Linked DNA regions of Homo sapiens. The protein of the gene in region 2 purifies or fractionates together with the protein of the main gene of each other region. This does not show direct contact. Each region holds a gene or a part of one and is shown on either strand. Other genes may lie near its edges. The genes, in order: ENDOD1, CAV3, ANKRD13C, REEP2, SBDS, AP1S2 and MAP7D3.

The links.
Region 1: the proteins of CAV3 (region 2) and ENDOD1 purify together in Homo sapiens (affinity purification with mass spectrometry; 2 studies listed by BioGRID and IntAct, with this or other methods). This does not show direct contact.
Region 3: the proteins of CAV3 (region 2) and ANKRD13C purify together in Homo sapiens (affinity purification with mass spectrometry; 2 studies listed by BioGRID and IntAct, with this or other methods). This does not show direct contact.
Region 4: the proteins of CAV3 (region 2) and REEP2 purify together in Homo sapiens (affinity purification with mass spectrometry; 2 studies listed by BioGRID and IntAct, with this or other methods). This does not show direct contact.
Region 5: the proteins of CAV3 (region 2) and SBDS purify together in Homo sapiens (affinity purification with mass spectrometry; 2 studies listed by BioGRID and IntAct, with this or other methods). This does not show direct contact.
Region 6: the proteins of CAV3 (region 2) and AP1S2 purify together in Homo sapiens (affinity purification with mass spectrometry; 2 studies listed by BioGRID and IntAct, with this or other methods). This does not show direct contact.
Region 7: the proteins of CAV3 (region 2) and MAP7D3 purify together in Homo sapiens (affinity purification with mass spectrometry; 2 studies listed by BioGRID and IntAct, with this or other methods). This does not show direct contact.

The regions. Positions count from the first base shown.
Region 1 is NC_000011.10:95,096,346-95,099,845, forward strand, and holds part of ENDOD1 (endonuclease domain-containing 1 protein precursor), read left to right. Parts: intron 1-3,500. UniProt on the Homo sapiens protein: May act as a DNase and a RNase. Plays a role in the modulation of innate immune signaling through the cGAS-STING pathway by interacting with RNF26.
Region 2 is NC_000003.12:8,743,802-8,747,258, forward strand, and holds the end of CAV3 (caveolin-3), read left to right. Parts: intron 1-1,724; coding exon 1,725-2,066; 3' UTR 2,067-2,957; downstream 2,958-3,457. UniProt on the Homo sapiens protein: May act as a scaffolding protein within caveolar membranes. Interacts directly with G-protein alpha subunits and can functionally regulate their activity. May also regulate voltage-gated potassium channels.
Region 3 is NC_000001.11:70,278,223-70,281,722, reverse strand, and holds part of ANKRD13C (ankyrin repeat domain-containing protein 13C), read left to right. Parts: intron 1-3,500. UniProt on the Homo sapiens protein: Acts as a molecular chaperone for G protein-coupled receptors, regulating their biogenesis and exit from the ER.
Region 4 is NC_000005.10:138,442,057-138,444,760, forward strand, and holds part of REEP2 (receptor expression-enhancing protein 2), read left to right. Parts: intron 1-2,358; coding exon 2,359-2,479; intron 2,480-2,697; coding exon 2,698-2,704. UniProt on the Homo sapiens protein: Required for endoplasmic reticulum (ER) network formation, shaping and remodeling. May enhance the cell surface expression of odorant receptors.
Region 5 is NC_000007.14:66,987,180-66,989,883, reverse strand, and holds the end of SBDS (ribosome maturation protein SBDS), read left to right. Parts: intron 1-1,384; coding exon 1,385-1,513; 3' UTR 1,514-2,204; downstream 2,205-2,704. UniProt on the Homo sapiens protein: Required for the assembly of mature ribosomes and ribosome biogenesis.
Region 6 is NC_000023.11:15,844,814-15,848,313, reverse strand, and holds part of AP1S2 (AP-1 complex subunit sigma-2), read left to right. Parts: intron 1-2,302; coding exon 2,303-2,411; intron 2,412-2,797; coding exon 2,798-2,935; intron 2,936-3,500. UniProt on the Homo sapiens protein: Subunit of clathrin-associated adaptor protein complex 1 that plays a role in protein sorting in the late-Golgi/trans-Golgi network (TGN) and/or endosomes.
Region 7 is NC_000023.11:136,227,401-136,230,900, reverse strand, and holds part of MAP7D3 (MAP7 domain-containing protein 3), read left to right. Parts: coding exon 1-62; intron 63-307; coding exon 308-516; intron 517-2,142; coding exon 2,143-2,278; intron 2,279-3,469; coding exon 3,470-3,500. UniProt on the Homo sapiens protein: Promotes the assembly and stability of microtubules.

The DNA.
Region 1 (3,500 bases), on a different chromosome or scaffold from region 2:
CATTGCCTGTCGATATATCTATTTGGCCACTGAAAGGAAGGAGAAATGAAAAAGAAACTGACTCATAGGCTGAACCAAGAATAGAAGCACCGTTTAATATTCCAGTCATGCTTCATTGACCTAGTGCTGAACAGAAGTGTGGCTCAATCAAAAGGTCAAACAGAGGGTAGTTTATATTTTTAATCAAAGCTGAAAATACGGGTACATTTTACTTTGTAGAATAAACAGATGGCTGAAATATTATTTGAAAATATAAATGTAATTACATGTTTCAGTTGACTTATACTTTAAGGGCTGATTGGTCTTCAGTTTTTATTGACTTCCAGTTGGCAGGGACACCTAATGCTTTAAGAAAGCCCTGAGCCCTCTGTCAATTCATTTTAGTCAACAAATCTTTATTGAGCATCTGCTATGTGTGAGGCACTATTCTAAGTCCTGGAAAGAGAGCAGTGGTTACAGACAAAAATACCTACTCTCATAGGGTTTATATCTAATAGAGAATATAGATTATAAAATAAATAAATAAAAGACAAGGTGCCAAGCATGGTGGCTCATGCCTGTAATCCCACTACTTTGGGAGGCCAAGGCGGTCTGATCATTTGAGCCTAAGAGTTCGAGACCAGCCTGGGCAACATGGCAAAAACCCATCTCTACAAAAATTAGCGAGGAGTGCTGGCATGCACCTGTAGTCCCAACTACTCATGGAGGCTAAGGTGGGAGGATCATTTGGGCCTGGGAGGTAGAGGCTGTGGTGAGCTGAGATCATGCCACTGCACTCCAGTCTGGGGGACAGAGTAAGACCCTGTTTCAAAAAAAAAAAAAAGGCATATTAGACAGTGATAAGTGTTAAGGAGAAAAAGCAAGGAAGGAGGCTATGAGATATCAAGGAAAAGGTGAAGTTTAAAACAAGGTTTCCATCCAGGGAAGAGATCACTGAGGAGTTGACTTTTGGGTATAGACATGAAAGAAGTAAGAAAGCCAATTATGCAGGCATCTATAGAGGGGGAAAACGTTCTGGGTAAAGGGAATGGTAATTGCAAAGGCCTGGAGGCATGAGTGTGTTGAGGAAGAACTAAGAGGCTGGTTTGGCTAGAGAAGAGTAAATGAGAGTAGCAGGAGATGAGGTCAGAGAAGTGGGGAAGGAGACGGCAGATCATTTAGATTCTTCTGAGCTATTTGTAAAATATTGGGGTTTTACTGTGTGTGAAGTGGGAAGCAATTGTGCAGGGTTCTGAGCAGAGAGCTTCGATGTGATCTGGCTTACATTTAAATAGGACCATTTTGGCTGCTGCATTGAGAATAGACATGTGGTGTTAAGGGCAGAAGCAAAGAAACCAGTTAGGAGGTTTCAGTGATCTGACAAGACAGTAGTATCTTGGATCAAGATGATAGCACTGTATATTCTGGATATATTGTGAAGAAAGAGCTCATAGTCTTTGGAGTGAGAGAAAGGGAAGAGATGACTCCAAGGGTTTGGGCCTGAATAATCAGAAGAATGGAGTTGTCATGAATAAGACAAGGATACAAAAGGAGGGGCTGTTTGGGGGCCATATCAAGAACTCGCTTTTGTTCATAAGAGCAAGAATATAATACTGGTTGAGTATCCCTAATCTGAAATGCTTGGGACCAGAAGTGTTTCAGTTTGAAGATTTTTTTTTGGATTTTGGAATTAGTGGCTGAACCTCCCAAATCTGGAAATCTGAAATCTGAAATGCTTTAATGAGCATTTCCTTTGAATGTCATGTCAGTACTCAAAAAGCTTTGGATTTTGGAACATATTGGATTTTGGATTTTCAGATCTGAGATGCTCAACCTATAGTGGCTACCAGGGGCTGAGGGGTGGGGAAGATGAGGAGCTCTTGTTTAATGGGTATAAAGTTTCAGTTACATGGGATAAATCAGTTCTAGAGATCTGCTGTACAATGTAATGCCTATAGTTGATGATATTGTATTGTGCACTTCAAAATTTGTTAAGAGAGTAGATTTCATATTAAGTTTTCTTAATACGCACACAAAACAAACAAAAGGACACAAGGAAAGTATGGGAGGTGTTGGACATGTCTCCCTCCTTGGTTGTTGTGATTGTATCATGGGTATTTGCATACATCCAAACCCAGCACATTAATTATGTGATGGGTTATTACATATTTATTGCACATTTAATTCATCACATTAAATATGTACAATTCTTTGTATATCAGTTATACTTTGATACAGCTGTAGGAGGAAAAGGTACTCCGTTTTGGGCACTCTGAGTGCGAGATACCTTCAGGTATTCAATTGACCTTCAAGTAAGTACAGTCTAGAGCTCATTGGATGCTTATCATATGGCAGGAGGCACTTTTCTAGTGTTTTTTTTTTCACATGTAATTTCATGTAATCCTCAGCATCGTCAGAAATAGGTACTATTATTATCCTTCTTAGAGGAGGAAACAGGCCCAGAGAGGTTAAACTACTATTGCATTTTTACACAGCTAAGAAGAGGTGGGGCTCGGGTTTGAACCTGAGCTGTCTGACACCAGAGCACACATGGACTGCTTCTGTTGCAAACCTGTTGATGTGTTGGGTGAGCTCCTATTGAATGCTCTTGAATGAAGTTTATCTTTTAAAAGTTCACATGTTCATTTACCAGGATTTTATAGAGGGTGTGTTTCTAGCTCTGGCAGTCACACGCCCATGAATATCAGAGGCTCACCACCTCCAGGTGTACCTTTGTGGCTATAGGAAGGGTGGGGTTATTGCAAGTACTCCATTGGGCCGAGGGTGCTCTGCCCCCTTGTACAGTCTTGTTCTATACTGATCCATCTTGAGCTCTTCCTATTATCCTTATGCAAGCAGACATTTTCCATAAGGCACCAGGTTAGAGCTGGGAAAAATGGATCACCCAAAAACTGTGTTAACTCTGTTGAGCAACAGATTTTGTCCCCTGCATCTCAGTGAGTAGCGGAGATAAGAGGGTAGGGGATAGAGTCTTGCATCTCTGGGCGTATGGAGACATTGCTGCCAGACAGGCTGTTGGATTGGATGTGGTGCATGAGCCTGAGGAGAGCCCATCTCCTGTCTCAATGCCAGCTGTCCCTAGGGGTGGGAAGGAGGTGCCCAGGCCGACTACACCCTCCAGAGCTCCGCTCCTTGAGCAGAGGTGGCAGACCCACACATCCATCATCCAGCCCTAGTCTGTTCAGGAGCTCCTTCTCTGCAGCCAGCTTGGCTCCCAGGAAGGAAGACCAGCAGAACACTTAAACTTAATAACCCAGTAATGCAGTAAGTCCTACTTTGGGACAAGAGGAGGGACTTTGCTCTAACTCAGAACGTATACCTCCTTGAACGTGCCAAAATTCCTTTTTCCTTTATGACTGTTTAGTAAGTTAAAGTCCTTCATCTTTGCAGGTTCTTGCATTTGTCCCTATACCGACTTTATCACAGCTTGGTAAATGTGCCTTCCCTCTATGTTTGTGAGATGGCAGCACTGGTTTCAGGAAATCTGCTTGCTGTTATCT
Region 2 (3,457 bases):
GAAAATATTGTACTGGAAAGAAATGCACCAAAACAATCATATCTTTAGTAATAGAGAAGTACAAACCCAAGACTCTTTTCTTTTTTCTATTCTGTTAATTCTCTGTGATATGGCCATTTTTTTTATAATGAAAGTAATTTTAATATTGGTGATGCAATAGAGGAGAGGATCCCCTCCCCATAACCAAGGCGGGAAAGGGACTAACTAACCAGGAAGATTGAAGTTGGAGCCTCAGCCCTGCAGGCCACCACACAGGCCCCTCCTGTTGATCTGATTAGTCTGTACCTGCATCCACCCCCTTTTAATTTGAATGGCCCAGGAGCACTGCTAGAAAGAAAACATCTCAGAACAGTTTCAGGCATTAGCAAACAGCTCTGCAACCTCCCACTTGGCGGGCTGTACTGGTAACAACCATGGGGAGACCAGTCATGAAGCAGCTAATTTGGTTCACTGCTGTTTAATTGACCAGTGGAATTTTTTTTTTTTTTTTTTTTTGAGATGGAGTCTCGCTCTGTCACCCAGGCTGGAGTGCAGTGGCACAATCTCGGCTCACTGCAAGCCCCGCCTCCCGGGTTTATGCCGTTCTCCTTCCTCAGCCTCCCAAGTAGCTGGGACTACAGACACCCGCTGCCATACCCGGCTAATTTTTTTTTTTTTTTTTTTTTTTTGTATTTTTAGTAGAGACAGGGTTTCACTGTGGACCAGTGGATTTTACAGCCTCCCATCCTTTCATCCTCATGATACCACTGGAAGACGTTCATTGACTCCATCTTACAGACAAGACAGCTGAGGCTTAGTGATGCTAAGTGACATCACCCATGTGTAGGCAGCTAGGAAGGTGCTTCATGCATAGCAGGGCTCGAGAGAGCTTAGGTAAGCGATGTGAGGAACCTCTGCCTGTTCACCATCCAATCCACAGGTGCTCAGTAAATTGCTGTAGGATGCATACGACCGTCCAACACCCTTCAGATCATAAAACAATAGAATTTGAGAGCTGCGACTATAGCACTGCCACTAAGTCACTGTTGGCTTTAAGCAAGTCGCTCACCTTGAGGGGGTTGAACGAGCGTGTTGTGTTGGTCAGCGGTGCCTAGGAACAGCAGCAGCTTGGGCTCAACAGGGAGCTTGTTAGAAATACAGAGCCTTAGGCCCCACTCCAGACTTGGGGAGTCGGAATCCCTGGGGCGATGATATGGTCTGGATCTGTGTCCCCTCTAAACCTCATGGTGAAACATAATCTCCAATATTGGAGGTGGGGCCGGGTGGGAGGTGATCGGATCACAGAGGCAGATCCCTCGTGGCTTAGTGCTGTCCTCACAATAGTGGGAGAGTTCTCATAAGATCTGGTTGTTGTAAAGTGTGGCACTCCACCCCCTGCCCAGCTCTCTCTCTTGCTCCCACTCTCACCAGGGGAGACGCCTGCTCTCCCTTCTCTAGCCATGGTTGAAAGCTCCCTGCGGCCTCACCTGAAGCCAAGCAGATGCCAGCACCATGATTCCTGCACAGATCACAGACCCATGGGCCAATTAAACCTCCTTTCTTTATCAATTACCCAGCCTCAGGTATGTCTTTAAAGCAATGCAAGAATAGCCTAATACAGGTAGGGTCCAGCCACCAAGGTTAACCTGACCTCTAGGGGATTCTGACACATGCACGCACACACCCAAAAGCTTGAGAAGCGGGTGGCTTCTGTGAGTTGAGGCTTCCCCTTGCCACCCCTGCAGGTGGATTTTGAAGACGTGATCGCAGAGCCTGTGGGCACCTACAGCTTTGACGGCGTGTGGAAGGTGAGCTACACCACCTTCACTGTCTCCAAGTACTGGTGCTACCGTCTGTTGTCCACGCTGCTGGGCGTCCCACTGGCCCTGCTCTGGGGCTTCCTGTTCGCCTGCATCTCCTTCTGCCACATCTGGGCGGTGGTGCCATGCATTAAGAGCTACCTGATCGAGATCCAGTGCATCAGCCACATCTACTCACTCTGCATCCGCACCTTCTGCAACCCACTCTTCGCGGCCCTGGGCCAGGTCTGCAGCAGCATCAAGGTGGTGCTGCGGAAGGAGGTCTAAAGCCAGGTGGGGCAACAGCGGTGGCAGGGCAGGGGGTGGTGGGCCAGACTGGTCCCCGGGGGACTTCTTCACAGGGGCTGCTGGCGAGCTCTTTCTCTTTAGGGACTGCTCCATACCCCATGATGGAGCACACGGTGTAGGGAAGCCAGAAAGAAAAGACGGCCCAGCCACAGAAGCACAATGGCCCTTCGCTCTCCCCCAGCCCCACCATGATGCCCCCATGCCTGGGCGTGGGGGAAGATCATTTGCCAAGAGGCAGCTACTGCAAGTCTTTGCGTTCACTTGTACTGTAACAACATAAACCAGCACGCGGTTCCCACCCGGGGCCAACCTCTCCACGCGCACTCAGGAAAGTGACCAGTGACCACTGGCGTTAGGAAGGTGGCTCCAGTAAAGGGTTTTGGCTGCATTTGGGGAATGCTGCATTTTGTTCGTGCCTGTAAGATTGGTTTGTGTCCTGACCAGCTCCAAAAATATACTTCACTGCCCTGAAAAACAGACACAGGGAGAGTTGGTTGTCTCTTCACTTGGCCAAATGTAAGTGAAGAACAGAGTCTTTTTCTTCTTCGGATTCTATTGTTTGCTGGAACCGTACACGTTCCTTGGAAGATCATGTTTAAGTGACTCCTGTTGCCTGAGCACAAAAATGGGCACCAATGGAGGAAAATGACCCTTGGGCTGGCAGGGGCAGTGACCCTTCCAGGGTACCACTGAGGGAAGGGCCTGGGTTCAAGCCTCCCGGAACCTCCCCTTTGGCTAACCGAGCCCCTGAAATGCCCAGTACTGCCATTTGACATGAGGGTACCTTCGCCCTCAGGAGATGTGACGAAGGAACAAGGTCTAATTTGTGCGTGTGTGGACTCACTATGGAAATAAAATGCAGTAGAAAGAGCATGTATCACTTCCTCCCTCCTCACACTCTCTCTCTCTCTCACACACACACACACACACAGTGCCCTTATCTTCTTTAGGGCTGTCTTTTCCGAGTGTGCTATCCAGAACTTAGCCATTAAAAAAGAAAGGATGGGGATGGGTGTTAGCATCTGTGGTCCGGTTCTTTCAGAAATGCTGTATATTTCTCTCAGAGATTTTCAATAGACTTTGGCACATTAAAGGCTCTGACATGTCCTGCAGTAGATAAACCTGTTTAAACCAGTATCCCCCCAATCCTATCTGACCTTTTTTTTTTCTTTTTTTCTTTTCATGCAACGCCCATTTAAGTCTCATATAATTAAAGTTCCACAGCACTTGTCAGGTTTTCGGAGACATTATTCATGCCTGGCCACGAGCCCAGTGGTCTTGGGAGGCAGTGTGGTGAAGTGGACCACACACAGCTTGGGAACTAGGACGCAGGCAGCCTTGGTTCTAGTCCTGCTTCCGCTCCTAGTTGC
Region 3 (3,500 bases), on a different chromosome or scaffold from region 2:
TCCATTGGTTAGAATTTAACCCGGGCATGGTGACTCATGCCTGTAATCCCAGCACTTTGGGAGGCCAAGGTGGGAGGATTGCTTGAGCTCAGGAGTTCAAGACCAGCCTGGGCAACATAGTGAGACTCTGTCTCTACAAAAAAAAAGTAAAAACAAGCTGAACATGGTGGCATGCATCTGTAGTCCCAGCTCCTCAGGAGGCTGGGGTGGGAGGATCACTTGAGTCCAGGAGGTCATGGCTGCAGTTTGGTGTGATTGAGTTACTGCACTCCAGTGTAGGTGACAGAGCAAGACCCTGTCTCAAAAAAAAAAAAAAAAAAAAAAAAGAATTTAGTCACATGATAACACCTAGCTGCAAGGATTTCTAGAAAAGGAGTCTATTCTAGGAAGTCATGTGCTCATCCAAAAATTTGGAAGAGAGGTTCTTTCACAAAGACTAATGGGAGAACAGATACTGGGGAGACAACTAGCAATCTCTGACATCTCATCAGTGAGTACATAAACACTGGTAACTGTCAACCAGATATATACCTTTAACTCTATTCTTCCGTCATATCACCACATCTATAGTGCTTTTGCCTACCTCTACTTGGATAAACATAGATGTCTAAAATTTAGTGTGTCTAAATCAGATAATGCTTTCTTCCCTCCTTCCTCTTTTCTCTGTCTTAGGTAGTAACACCATTATCTCCTTATTTACCCCAGCTGGCAACCTGAAATTTCTTCTTAGACTTCTTAGCTTTCCTGTTATCTCTATATCTGATCAATCACAAAATCCTAAGGATCTCTTGAGTCTATTTAGTCTATTTTCTGTCCTTCCATTTTTAAACAACATGCCCTTATCATTTCTCATTTGGATTACTGAGATAGCTTCCTAAATACACTGCCACCAGAGTAATCACCCTGAAATAGATTGAATCATGTAATGGCTATGCTCAGTAACTAAAATGTATACAGTACTTGCTATGCGTGAGGCACTATTTTAAGCACTTTACATTTAACAGCCCATTTTTATCATCACAGTAAACCCTCTGAGGTTATATAGTTGACAGAACTGAGGCAAAAGAGGTTGAGTAATTTGTTTGAAGTCAGCTAGTCATTGTCGAAGCCAGAATTGGATCACTCTGGCTCCACAGTTGGTGTTTTAGCTACTATATTGTATTGCTCAAAATATTTGTCCATTGCTTCCTGAGTAAAATGTGATCTACTTCATATGTAAAACCCTTTCAGGCTACTTTTTCTCTTCTGTGTCTGGCCACTTTTCTCTTACTACTAATCTTCATGTATACTACTCATACAACTAGACACACTACACTTGCAATTTCCCAGTATGTCATGCTTTCTCTCACCATTCTGCTTTCCCCAGTTCCTTCAACCAGTTCTTTTGTTCTTTTTTAGACTCCTCAATTCAGGAGTCAACCAGTCCACGTCTTTTGGCTACCCTAGTCTGTCATAAACCTCTTCTGTGCATGTTTATATCATTCTGTAGCCCCTGTCACCCTCAATTATATCATAGCCCCTGTCACCCTCAATTATAAGTATTTACTTTTTGTGTCTCTTGATAAGCTTCTCAAGGAAAGAACATTGTCTTTCATCTTGCCTGATACTAAAAAACTCTGTTTCCTTTCTTTCCACATCCCTCGGCTGCTACTCAGAGATCATCAATGACTTCTAACCAACAAAATTTATGGCTTTTTCAGGCTTCTTTCTCTTCAAAGTCTCTGTAGTGTGATATTGAAACAGTCTTTTCTTTTGGCCTCCATTATACCATAAGGGAAACTAAACTTTACCTCTTCCAAACTTAGTTCTTAGTTGAGATGGACTCTCGTACCAAAAGACAGATTTATAAGGGAAAAGCAAACAAGTTTATTAATGCGTGCCGCACACCACACAAGAAACCCCAAGGAAAAGTAACTCAAGGGCTGATCACAGTGGCTTATGCCTGTAATCCCAGCACTTTGGGAGGCTGAGTTGGGCAGATCACTTGAGGCCAGGAGTTTGAGACCAGCCCAGCCAACATGGTGAAACCCCATCTCTATTAAAAATACAAAAATTAGCTGGGCTTGATGATGCACACCTGTAATCCCAACTCAGGAGGCTGAGGCAGAAATATTGCTTGAACCTGGGAGGCGGAGGTTGCAGTGAACCGAGATTGTGCCACTGCACTCCAGCCTGGGTAACAGAGCAAGACTATGTCTCAAAAAAAAAAAAAAAAAAAAAAAGTAGCTCAAAATAGTGGCTTAGAACTCTACTTATATAGCATCTTCAACAAAGAACAATAAATTTATAGAGAAATGACAGGACAAATGAAAGTGATTTTAGGTTTCCAAGGACAGGAAAGGAGTAAGGTTTGTTTGCAAATTCCTCTGGTGCTGTCACTGGGCTAGTAAGAGTATAGAGTTATCTCCAGTGAAGCAAAATTTATACTCTGTAGTTCGGCAGAAAACGGAGGGTAGAGAAAAAGCTTTTCCTCCATTTACTGCTTCCCTCTCTCTCTCTCTTTTTTAATTTCTTTTGAGACAGAGTCATGTTCTGTCCTGTAGGCCGGAGTGCAGTGGCATGATCTCGGCTCACTGCAGCCTCCATGTCCTGGGCTCAAGGAATCCTCCCACCTTGGCCCTTCAAGTAGCTGGGACCACAGATGTGTGCCACCATGCCTGGCTACTTTTTTTTTTTGTATTTTTTGTAGAGATGGGGTTTTGCCATGCTGCCCAGGCTAGTCTCAAACTCCTGAGCTCAAGGGATCAACCTGCCTTGGCCTCCCAAAGTGCCAGGATTATAGGCATGAGGCACCACACCTGACCTGCACTAAGTTTTTTATATACGTTATCTCCATTAATTTTTAACTATGAGTTAGTGGCCCAATTCCCATTTTGCAAGTGAGTTAAGTTGACATAATAGAAAGTAACTTGCCCAAATTCACACAACTACCAGGTATTGGAGCTGGGATTCTAACTCAATTTTGTGTCTTAGCAATCCTTGATTTTAACAACTCTAATATATGGCTCATTAACATCTTACACTAATTATATGTAAAACCACATTTCTTGAATGAGACCCTCTCAATGTTATTAACATCTTATTATTCATATTAGTCTTTCACTTATTGTCTTTTTGCTCCATAGTCCTGTTAGGTTTTCATTAGCAATTGAAAAAAAATTTTTTTTTAATTTATGAGGTTTTTGTTTTGTTTTGTTTTCTTGAGACATAGAGTCGCTCTGTTTCCCAGGCTGGAGTGCAGTGGTGTGATCTTGGGTCATGGAGTGCAGTGGTGTGATCTCAGGTCACTGCAATCTCTGCCTCCTGGGTTCAGGTGATTCTCCTGCCTCAGCTTCCTGAGTGGCTAGGATTACAGGTGCGAGCCACTACGCCTGGCTAATTTTTGTATTTTTAGTAGAGATGGGGTTTCACCATATAGGCCAGGCTGGTCTTGAACCCCTCACCTCAAGTGATCCACCTGCCTTGACCTCCCGAAGTGCTAGGATTACAGGCATGAGCCA
Region 4 (2,704 bases), on a different chromosome or scaffold from region 2:
CACAGCTCTCGAGGCCTCAGTTTCCTTATTTGTAAAATAGGCATATGATTCACTCCTATAAATGCTGGATACTTGCATTTCCAAGGCATTTTCCAGGCTGTACTAGACTACGTATGTATGAGCACTTTGAGGACAGGGAATATGTCTTAATCATCTGTATATTCACAGCAGGAACTCAAAAATGTTTACTGAATGATCAGATACCTCTTGGAAGAGGGGACTAATAACACAGTTCATCGGAACTCAAGAAGAGAATTTTACCAAGGGGGAGAGGACAAGAGATCATTACATTTATAGATAAGACCCTTGCATTTGAGAAAAATAGTTTTAGAAGAGGAAAGAGATGGAGAGATGGGTTAAAAATTGAGGGTAAAGGCCGGGTGTGGTGGCTCACGCCTGTAATCCCAGCACTTTGGGAGGCCAAGGCAGGCAGATCACGAGGTCAGGAGATCGAGACCATCCTGGCCAACACGGTGAAACCCCGTCTCTACTAAAAATACAAAAATTAGCTAGGCATGGCAGGGCGCAGTGGCTCACACCTGTAATCCCAGCACTTTGGGAGGCCGAGGTGGGCGGATCATGAAGTCAGGAGATGGAGAGCATCCTGTCCAATACGGTGAAACCCCATCTCTACTAAAAAACAAAACACAAAAAATTAGCCGGGCGTGGTGGCGGGTGTCTGTAGTCCCAGCTACTCTGGAGGCTGAGGCAGGAGAACGGTGTGAACCCAGGAGGCGGAGCTTGCAGTGAGTCGAGATCGAGCCACTGCACTCCAGTCTGGGCAACAGGGTGAGATTCTGTCTCAAAAAAAAAAAAAAAAATAGCTAGGTATTATGGCACCTACTTGTAATCCCAGCTACTTGGGAGGCTGAGACAGGAGAATCGCTTGAACCCAGGAGGCGGAGGTTGCCGTGAGCCGAGATCGTGCCACTGCACTCCAGCCTGGCAACAGAGCAAGACTCAGTCTCAAAAAAAAAAAAATTGAGGGTAAAGGCCGGGCATGGTGGCTCCTGCTTGTAATCCTGGCACTTTGGGAAGCCAAGGCAGGAGGATCACTTGAGCCTAGGAGTTTGAGATCAGCCTGGGCAACATAGCAAGACCTGCCTATTAAAAAAAAAATTGGCCAGGTGCGGTGGCTCATGCCCATAATCACAGCACTTTGGGAGGCCAAGGGGGGGCAGATCACCTGAGGTCAGGAGTTCGAGACCAGCCTGACCAACATGGTGAAACCCCTTATCTACTAAAAATACAAAATTAGCCGGGCGTGGTGGCACATGCCTGTAATCCCAACTACTCAGGAGGCTGAGGCAGAAGAATTGCTTGAACCCAGGAGGCAGAGGTTGCAGTGAGCCAAGATTGTGCCATTGCACTCCGGCCTGGGCAACAAGAACGAGACTCTGTCTCAAAAAAAAAAAAAAAAAAAAGATGAGAGTAGGGCAAGGGTGGTGAGGTGAAAAACAAAACTGAGGGTAGTAAATATAGATGCCTTTTTTTTCTTTTTCTGAGATAGAATCTCACTCTGTCATTCAGGTTGGAGTGCAGTGGTGTGATCTCGGCTCACTGCAGCCTCTACCTCCTGGGCTCAAGTGATCCTCCCACCTCAACCTCCTGAGTAGCTGGGACCACAGGCACACGCCACCACACCTGGCTTATTTTTTATTTTTTGTAGAGATGGGGTTTTGCTGTGTTGTCAGGCTGGTCTTGAACTCCTGGGCTCAGATGATCCTCCCACCTTGGCTCCCAAAGTGCTGGGAGATTACAGGCCACTGTGCCAGGCCTATACATGTGTCTTGACACAGCAAAAGAGAGAGCTTTGATGAAGACTTTGTGAGGACATAGGTGACCTGAAGGAGTTTGTGACCAGAGGAGAAGGCACTATGGGGACTGAAGGGCAATCCTGGAGAAGTGAGGGTCGTGTCACGGTGGGGCAGGAGGGTCCAGAGCAAGCTAGAGAAGTCCCAGGCCTCTCGATGATAGGGAGGGCAGAAAGGGAAGGAGTGAAGACCCAGGTGTAGGCCTGCACAGTCAAGAGTTTCCCTTGGTGTTGACCCTAGGGCAGAGGAAGGGGGGTTTTCTCTAGGAGTGAGAGGGCTGGGGCTTGGGGAGAGGATGAGGCCAGGAGAGTCGCTGCTGGGGGAAATTCCTTCTAGTGTCACTGCTTACCTTCCTGTTTGGAGCTTCAGCTGAGCCCTCCAGACCCTTTCAGATTAGAAAGGAGCAGTCCCATGAGCCCCATGGGGACCCCAGTGCACTAAGAGTGAGGGGCTGTGCAGGGTCACACATGGGGCCGGTGCTGCTGGACACAGGGCACCTCCCAACTCCCTGCCCTGTACTCTGCGCTTGCCCCTGTCCCAACAGGTTCCCCTTCTACTTTGAACTGAAGATCGCCTTCGTGATATGGCTGCTGTCCCCTTACACCAAGGGCTCCAGCGTGCTCTACCGCAAGTTCGTGCACCCAACGCTGTCCAACAAGGAGAAGGTTTGCCCCCACTCTCAGCTCACCTCCCAGCCTGCCCCCAGCCAAGGCAGTCCAGAGCCTGCAGCCTCATACAGACTGGCCCTCCCTGTGGGGCCCAGAGCCCAAAGTGACTTGGCAGGGCTGCCGTGGCCTCCCGGAGCAGGCAGGGGCCTCTGTCCAGGGGTGAACAAGGGTAGGGCAGGACCTCTCCTCTTCTCCCTTCCCCTCCAATCCCATAGGAGATCG
Region 5 (2,704 bases), on a different chromosome or scaffold from region 2:
TTTGAAAATTAAAAATGGTTTAAAGAGATGAGTCTGGGTGCCAAGTTGATAAGGGGTGGAATTGTGGATGTAATTTTAGGTGTCAACTTGACTGGAAAGGAATCCCTAGAAGCCTGATAAAGCATTGTTTGGGGTATGTCTGTGAGGGTGTTTCCAGAGGATATTAGTGTGTGAACCTGGTGACACTAAACACAGAACATTTTAAAGAAGCAGCGAAACCATTATGTCCTTATGACCTCACCCCACAGCTTCAAACACAGTGTAAATTGAGCTGTCTACAAATTCATGTTTTCAAGGCTTTGCAGCTTATTTATTTATTTATTTATTTATTTATTTTTGAGACAGGGTTTCACTCTTATTGCCCAAGCTAGAGTGCAATGGCGTGATCTCAGCTCACTGCAACCTCTGCCTCCCGGGTTCAAGCGATTCTCCTGCCTCAGCCTCCCGAGTAGCTGGGATTACAGGCATGTGCCACCTCGCCCAGCTAATTTTGTATTTTTAGTAGAGACGGGGTCTCTCCATGTTGGTCAGGCTGGTCTCGAACTCCCGACCTCAGGTGATCCACCCGCCTCGGCCTCCCAAAGTGCTGGGATTACAGGCTTGAGCCACCGCGCCCTGTCTGCAGCTTCTTTTTAAAAGTAAATGAGCTGTAGAGAAGTGTTGAGTATGTGAGTATCCACTGTAGATGTGAACTAACTCATCTGACACTACTTGAAGTTCTAAAATCTTTGCAAAACTGTACACATGGGCCAGGCACAGTGGCTCGTGCCTGTAATCCCAGCACTTTGGGAGGCCAAGGTGAGCAGATAACATGGTGAAACCCTATCTCTACTAAAAATACAAAAAATAAGCCAGGTGTGGTGGTGGGTTCCTGTAATCCCAGTTTCTTGGGAGGCTGAGGCAGGAGAATCACTTGAACCTGGGAGGCGGAGGCTGCAGTGAGCCAAGATCACACCACTGCACTCTATCTCAAAAAAAAATAAATTAACATACACATGGTGTCTACATAAGTCTTCACATTGCTTTTTCTCCTTCATACGTGGAGGTGACTTTACTGAGCTATAAAATGTAATGCTAAATTTTAGTATGAGAAGAATCAGAGTTTTCTAGTTTGTCCCTTCCATTTACAGCTGAAGAATCAGAATAAGTGTTTAAACATAGGGATTAATGCCTTGTCACAGGGGGCTACATGGACACTTGAGGGCAGAGGCTAAACTGGAACCCAGTGTGCCGCCCTACCCATTGTCTTATCTATTGCACCATAGAACTGTGGTATTATTAGAGATCTGGACAGCATTGTGCTTGCCTCAAAGGAAGTTAAAGCTGAGTTTATTCTGTGTCTTGCTCATCCTCATGTGGTAATCTGCTACGTTAAATGTTTCAGGTATGTCTGATTGACCCGGGCTGCTTCCGAGAAATTGATGAGCTAATAAAAAAGGAAACTAAAGGCAAAGGTTCTTTGGAAGTACTCAATCTGAAAGATGTAGAAGAAGGAGATGAGAAATTTGAATGACACCCATCAATCTCTTCACCTCTAAAACACTAAAGTGTTTCCGTTTCCGACGGCACTGTTTCATGTCTGTGGTCTGCCAAATACTTGCTTAAACTATTTGACATTTTCTATCTTTGTGTTAACAGTGGACACAGCAAGGCTTTCCTACATAAGTATAATAATGTGGGAATGATTTGGTTTTAATTATAAACTGGGGTCTAAATCCTAAAGCAAAATTGAAACTCCAAGATGCAAAGTCCAGAGTGGCATTTTGCTACTCTGTCTCATGCCTTGATAGCTTTCCAAAATGAAAGTTACTTGAGGCAGCTCTTGTGGGTGAAAAGTTATTTGTACAGTAGAGTAAGATTATTAGGGGTATGTCTATACAACAAAAGGGGGGGTCTTTCCTAAAAAAGAAAACATATGATGCTTCATTTCTACTTAATGGAACTTGTGTTCTGAGGGTCATTATGGTATCGTAATGTAAAGCTTGGATGATGTTCCTGATTATCTGAGAAACAGATATAGAAAAATTGTGCCGGACTTACCTTTCATTGAACATGCTGCCATAACTTAGATTATTCTTGGTTAAAAAATAAAAGTCACTTATTTCTAATTCTTAAAGTTTATAATATATATTAATATAGCTAAAATTGTATGTAATCAATAAAACCACTCTTATGTTTATTAAACTATGGCTTGTGTTTCTAGACAACTTCCTAACTCCCTTTCTTTTCTCTGCCTGTGTCTGTGGTAGGGTTAGGGAGTTGTCAGGAGAACTGAATAAGTCCATATGAAGAGTGCTTAGAACAGGGCCTGTACTTGTAAACACCTGAAAAATTTTTGCTAACACTTGGGATGTAATTGGGAAGAATTATTTTAGTATTTAAACACTTAAATGGACAAGATGCAAGCTTTTAAAAATCTACTTCAAGGCCAGGGGAGGTGACTCACACCTGCAATCCCAACACTTTGGGAGGCCGAGGCAGGCGGATCACCTGAGGTCAGGAGTTTGAGACCAGCCTGACCCACATGGTGAAACCCTGTCTCTACTAAAAATACAAAAATTAGCCAGGCATGGTGGTGCACGCCTGTAGTCCCAGCTACTCGGGAGGCTGAAGCAGGAGAATCACTTGAACCCAGGAGGCAGAGGTTGCAATGAGCTGAGAATGTGCCACTGCACTCCAGTCTAGGTGACAGAGTGAAACTCGG
Region 6 (3,500 bases), on a different chromosome or scaffold from region 2:
GTAAAATATGCAAAAGCCTTAGCTAACATTTAATGTCTCATGTAGGGCGAGGATTCAGTGAATGGTACTTAATTATTATGTTTCTGTTTTTTTCCTGCCCTAAGCTTTCTGGAAAGAGGTACATTATTATCCTGATAGCTATCTGTTCACCTACACCAAAGAATTCATTAATTTGATTATTCTTTTTCCATTCCGAGTGAAAGTAAACATTACTGGCTGGGGCTTAGACACATTGTTTCTGATGATTTTTAAATTAATGCTTCCAAGTGATTCATGCAGTTTAGGACCTTTGACTAGTGTTTAAGTGCTTTTTATTTGTAAGTAAAGAGGCAGTACTGTGGATAAGGAGCGAGGATGGTACGAGCATTAGCTTGTTTAATAGTAGCATGAGGAAATCTTAAATAAAAGGAATTTTACTTGAAACTGTTAGTAAACTTTGTATAATAAATTATTTAGCATTCTGTTCCTATCAGCTAGTCATATCTGGTTTTTAATCTACCATTTTTATGTCAGTCCCTTTAATGTTTAGTTTTCTTAAATCAGGGAATCTTATGTGTCATTTATCAGTTTCCTCAAATTCAAAGTTCTATTTAATGAGCATGGGTTAGGGAGGATGGAGAGTTGGAATACTCTATTCTCTTTTAAATAGACAAACAAAAACAGTAACGATGGGAAAGAGAGGGAGCACTTTGTTAAAGTTGGCATTGATGCCCTGTTTTGTCTTCCATGACTTATTCCCTTCACAATGATGATAAATGAACACATGTGAATACCTCCTCTCAATAAGACTGCAGTAGCTCCACCATTTTAAATAACTTACTGAGTGTGGAAGTCAGGTAGAGTAGACATGCACAAACTCATGATATATATGCCAAGTGAGTTTGTATGATACAGTGGAAAAAGGCCTGGAGTTAAGGTCAAAAGATCAGGTTTCTTATCCCAGTACTAGCACTTGTAGGCGCTGTACTCTTAAGCCTCATTTTTTTTTTGTCTTTTTTTAATCTGTGATCAAGGATGAAAGATAGTACTTGCTGTTGAAAACATCAAATAAGATGAAATGGTTTTAATAATGAAATTAATGCTGTTGTGTGAATACTAGTTATTTTCATACTAAGGAGCAAGAATTCATTGAGTCTCAAAACAGGTTGTGTTATTCTGTATACAGTATTATTTTACATTAATGCTACGAGCAGTAACTGCCCATTGTGTTTTCTAAAAATCATTTAAGTGATCTTCAGTGAAAATTATAATCTCCACTGAAATGTTCTGTGTTTAGCCTATCTTAGGTTTTTATTTTCTTTCTTTTCAAAAGCCTTAAGTACATGTAAACCATTTTAAAATGCCCTTTTAATCCTCCTCAAAGGACTTGCTATGCCTCAGGGTTGAAGTTTTGCTTCCTTGGGTCAAGCATAACATGATTCCATATGCTAGAATCCTAATTTGAAGGAGAATATAAGTTTCCCAACCTTATTCCCTCTTCTAGGGTAAATAAACTACACTTCAGTTCAACAGTGTAGAACTTGGTAAATTTGAGAACAGGCCTCTGTTTCCCTTAAGTGATAGGAACTTTCTGTTCTCTTTCTCTAACTTCTGTAATAACGTGGAGCTGTTGTTCTTTTCGTATGGTTTATTCTGCAATCCTAGAAACCTTTTTAAAAACAATTCTATTCTGTTAGAAGTCAAGAGCATAGTTACCCTTGGGGGTGGGAGGTTGTGACTGGGAGAGGGTAGCAGAGGAGTTTCAGGGTTCAGTAGTGTTCAGCTTCTTGATGTGGGTGCTGATATATAGTTGAGTTCACTTTGAAAATTTATTGAGCTTGTAGGACTTAAGGTCTTCTCTGTGTATATATTATACATATTCCAATAAAATATCCCAAAATATTGACCTCACCTTGGCATTATCCTCAACAAGTCCTCCTTCAGTTGGAAGGTTTGTTTTCTTCTCTGTACTTACAGTTTGAATTAATCTGCTATATATTTTGTTTTAATTAAGTAAACTTAGGAAAAACCTGGGTCTGCTATGTTTTAAAATGCTTATAGAAAAGAACCTGAAAGGAAGAAGGGCAAAATCACTTATTCTAAGTGGTATGATTATTTTGATTTTTTCTTTATACTTGCCTATGCTTTTCAAAATTTCTGTTATGCGTTTATTACTTTTGTAGTCTATGAGAAAAATCTGTACTGTCGTGAAAGAAGAAATAAACTGTATAAACTTGGGGCTTTTCATAATAGGATATGAAAATATATTTAGAAAACATCATTATAGGATAACAGTTTTTTTCACATTTGTACTTTGTTACAGATATGCTAGTCTGTATTTTTGCTGTGCTATTGAGGATCAGGACAATGAACTAATTACCCTGGAAATAATTCATCGTTATGTGGAATTACTTGACAAGTATTTCGGCAGTGTGAGTAGTATTTTATTTTAGGAAATTGAATGCCATAGTATATTTTGGAACCTTTTCTCTAACAAGTTTATTTTTTGGTTGTCTTGGGGATTCTAACCGCGGGAGAGGGTGGGAATGACTATTTATTAGTAGAAATTATTAAGTTGTCCATATTGGGAACATGCAGAGCCCAGTCTTATTTAGCTTGTAGGAATATGTTTTCAAGTACTTGAGATTTGGAAATTAAGCTTACTTAAACCAGTGATACTTAGTCATTTTTAGAAAGAGTTAAGATTGATTCACTCTAGTTCGATTTTATTCACTACCTGATAGTGAATAAGCATCTTCTGCTTCTGCAAGTTTTAACAATTTTTTCTTTTCTTTTTTCTTTTTTTTTTCCTTTTCAGGTCTGTGAACTAGATATCATCTTTAATTTTGAGAAGGCTTATTTTATTTTGGATGAGTTTCTTTTGGGAGGGGAAGTTCAGGAAACATCCAAGAAAAATGTCCTTAAAGCAATTGAGCAGGCTGATCTACTGCAGGAGGTAAGCTACTTATTCTCTTCACTAGGCACTAGCATGTTTTGCTCTTGCTGGGGAAGTCTCATTCATCATTCTTACAGTTTCAGAAAGTACTCTGAAGCATGCTTGTCATGTAGTGTCCATCCATGTGCAGTTTATTGACTGGAATATGTGTCAGTCACGTCAACTCAGTTATCTATGGATGGATGGTTCAGTTTGGAGATGGTCTATCGGTCAGGCCTCTTCCCAATGGCCCTTTTTGGACCCTAAAACACTGGAGTCTAAACCTTTAGAGGACAGACTATTTGAAGAAGGGAAAAGATTGGCTGAAAGTAGCAGTAAGTTGAGAACTCTCCATCTATTGCTTCAAATTGTTTAAGATAACCCCCTTTTTCATTAGTGTAGATAATCAGGAGTTGACTATGAGATTATGACATTTTAATTCCAAATTGGCTCATATTTTTACCTCATGTCCATTAAATGCAAAAGTAGCCAAGCAAATGATAGTGTTTTCTAATTATACTTTTTGTAGAAACTTCCAGGTTTTTTTTGTTAGCAAAACTAAACAGTATTTGCATTTCTCTTTGCT
Region 7 (3,500 bases), on a different chromosome or scaffold from region 2:
TGTTATAAATGGTCATCATCTCCTGAAAATGCTTGTGGTCTGCCGTCTCCCATCAGCACTAAGTAAGCAGCTTATTCGCAACTGTTCCTGATAGGCGTTTTACTAGAACAAATTCCATGTCAATGTTTGATGAGTGAAATAATATAGTATGCATGGTAACACAAATGTAAAGGGAAAAAAGCCTGTAAAAAGGGATTTATTTTTCAGAAAAATTCCCTGATTATAATGTCATCTCATAATAGCATCTTATATTTTATGAAATTGTACACTGAAAATTAATTAGCAAATGTGTATTACTTTTTCTCAGCAGGCAAATCCAAAAGAACTGCCCTCCATCACCATTACCACTTATTTCAAAACAGTCACCACAGACTTCTTTTCCTTATAAAATAATGCCTATTCAACACACCCTGTCTGTGCAAAGTGCATCAAGTACTGTCAAAAAGAAAAAAGAAACAGTTTCTAAAACCACTAACAGATGTGAGGCTTTGAGCCAAAGGCATATGATCTATGAAGGTAAGTTCTTTCACTAAGAAGTTTATCTTAGCAACACAGAAAATCTTACTGTATTCTGGGAAAGGTTCACTTCATTTTATTCCCCAATTGAGAGAACTTTAGGGAATTATTTTCCTTTTAGAAAGAGAGAATCTAACCAATCTCTGGTACATTGGAATGTATCTTCTCTGTTTGTTTGTCCTTGCCAAAGCTTTCTTCTCACCCCTTTGTTTTGAAAAATCCATTTTTGGAACTGCTTTTAAAAGCATAGGTCTGGCCAAGCATGGTAGCTCACGCCTATAATCCCAGCACTTTGGGAGGCTGAGGTGAGAGGATTGCTTGAGCCAAGGAGTTTGAGACCAGCCCAGGCAACATAGGAGAGAGACCCCTGTTTCTACAAAAAAAAAAAAAATATATATATATATATATATATATATATATACACACACAAAAAAAAAAATTAGCCCGATGTGGAAAGGGTAGGCTATATATTCGGTTAGGGGGTTGAGGATAAGAGTAAGCCATATTATACCATAACCACCTAGCTTAAGGTGGTACACATCTGTAGTCCCAGCTAGTAGGGAGGCTGAGGTAGGAGGATTGCCTGAGACCAGGAGGTGGAGGCTGCAGTGAGCCGTGATAGTGCCTTTACACTCTAGTCTGGATGAGAGAGCGAGACCCCATATCAAAAAAAAGCACAGGTCGGATGAGAGGTTTGGTCTAGGTGATTCCTGAGATCCCTTCTAGCTCTGATAGTGATGGTTCTTGGAGAGAGCACATCCACTCGTGGATGAGCAGGTTTTTCCTAAGATTTAGGTTCGTTTTTATATATAGGCCATAATGTGGTGTCCCTTGATTTGTGTAGTATTCCTGAAAGTGCCATATTGCTATTTTGCCTGTTACGTGCATTCTTAATACCCATGGACATTACTTAATTTCAAAAACACACTGGGGAATTTTGCTCTTTTACGGAATTCCACAGTGAATTTTTTGTAACAGAAACAATCTTTTAATTACAGATTATTCATTCCTGATATGTCTTCTCATTTTCATATGATTTATTTAAAATAAATTAGTAGTTATATAGACCAAAATATCATCATATGCCTCTGTGTACTCACCTTATTTTACTGATAGTCTTGGTTTTGTTATCTACAGTTAGCTACTCTATGATCAACCAAATGTATACACTATTATCAAGGTTTAGCTAAATAGTAATCATATAGTAAAAATGATGCACAGATCTCAAATGTATACCAGATACATATTTGTTTGAGTATTTAAGATATTTGTACCCTTTGTTTGGACCGAGCATAAGCTTGTCTTCCTCTATATTCAGTATTTCTTACTCTTTTCCCATGGGGTCAGTTGATTCAGTTATCTCAAAACCACTAAAACGAAAGTAGAAGTACATTATTTCATTTTGGAACAAGTAGGTGTTAAAAAGAAACAAAATGCTTCTGCTGTTGTTGGGGGTGCAGTTTGAACAAAATCTGTTAGATAATCACCTATAGTTTGCTTGTGATTTATAAATTTTGGACTACGCACATATATATATATTTTAATGTTTTGGATTGTGTTGCACTTCTTTGTTGGAGTGAGAGTTGATTAGCTCTCTTAACTGTTGCACATATTTATTTAAACTAGAGTCTGGTAATAAGAGTACTGCAGGTATTATGAATGCCGAGGCGGCAACAAAAATTTTGACAGAATTGCGCCGCCTTGCTCGTGAACAAAGAGAAAAAGAGGAAGAAGAAAGACAACGGGAAGAAATGCAGCAAAGGTCAGCACAAAGTCTTCCTTCCTATACTATAAATCTTGAGTGGGGCCCAAATTTTTGAAAGTCAAAATTTTACCCTCAAGTTATAAATTCTCAAAGAACAATTGACTTTCTTCAGTGAGGATCAGAAGTGCCTCATTGCCTGCATAGGAAGCATTTCAAGCCCTTGTAAATGGCTAAGGACCCTGGTATGTGGATAAATGGCACAGTCCTTTTTAGCCTCCATACATCATGTGCCATTAAGGTGTGCTAGGAGGATGCACAGAGACCAAACTCACATTCAGGATTTGATCTCTCAGCACCAGAGTGGTATATAAGAACAGATCAGTTCGTGTTCACTAGTGTCAGCCCTTTATTTAAAAGACTTGTAACATCAGGATTTTTAAACCTGAAAATTATACTTACTCATGTTTTACTTTTTCTGTGATCTTTGTGACACCTGTGTCTCATCAGGCCAGTGAGTCATTGCTAGAAGGATTTCCTTTGTGGGCAGCAAATCTCATGTACAGTTGTGTGCATTCAAATTCTAGCAAAGGTTTCTTGTTCCTCCATCTTGAGGACTATTTTATGTCGGGCCTTATAATGTAAACCTCTGTCCACTGGCTGCAGGGAATAACAACAGTACTGAATTTGCTTTTAAGTATTTAGTGTTATTTGAAATAATCACACATTTTCCATATGCTTATATGGGCTTGGGAAAAAGAAGGGAATATTATGAATTACAAAAAAAACCTCTAACTTGAAGAATATTATTCATCGCTTCATATAAACAGAGCTGATTTAGCATTTGAAAGTGCTGAATACTAGGGAACCACCAGACTCTCCTCTAAATTATCTCTGTTACCCCCACGAGAGATTGGGTGTGAGCACGTGTAAAGAAGGCCTTTTAGGGGATGTCATGTCTCAAAGACAGTTAAGGAATGAGTTCCTCTCACGTATGTGTGTTTTTTAACAAGCAAAGTAATCTATTACTTGATTGAAATATTTTTCTGCTCCCGAGGGCTAGTTTTTCTCTTTAAAAAGGGGTGGAATTGTGTAATTCCTATATAGTAACAACACAGAAGATGTAGTGACTCTGGTGTGGATATAAATTATATTACTATACACAGGAAGTTTCACTATAAAAACTCACTAGTGCAAGCTGAGTATGATAGCAATCAAGATAAATACTAACAATTATTTAAATACTCTCAGGGTCATTAAGAAATCAAAAGACATGGCAAAG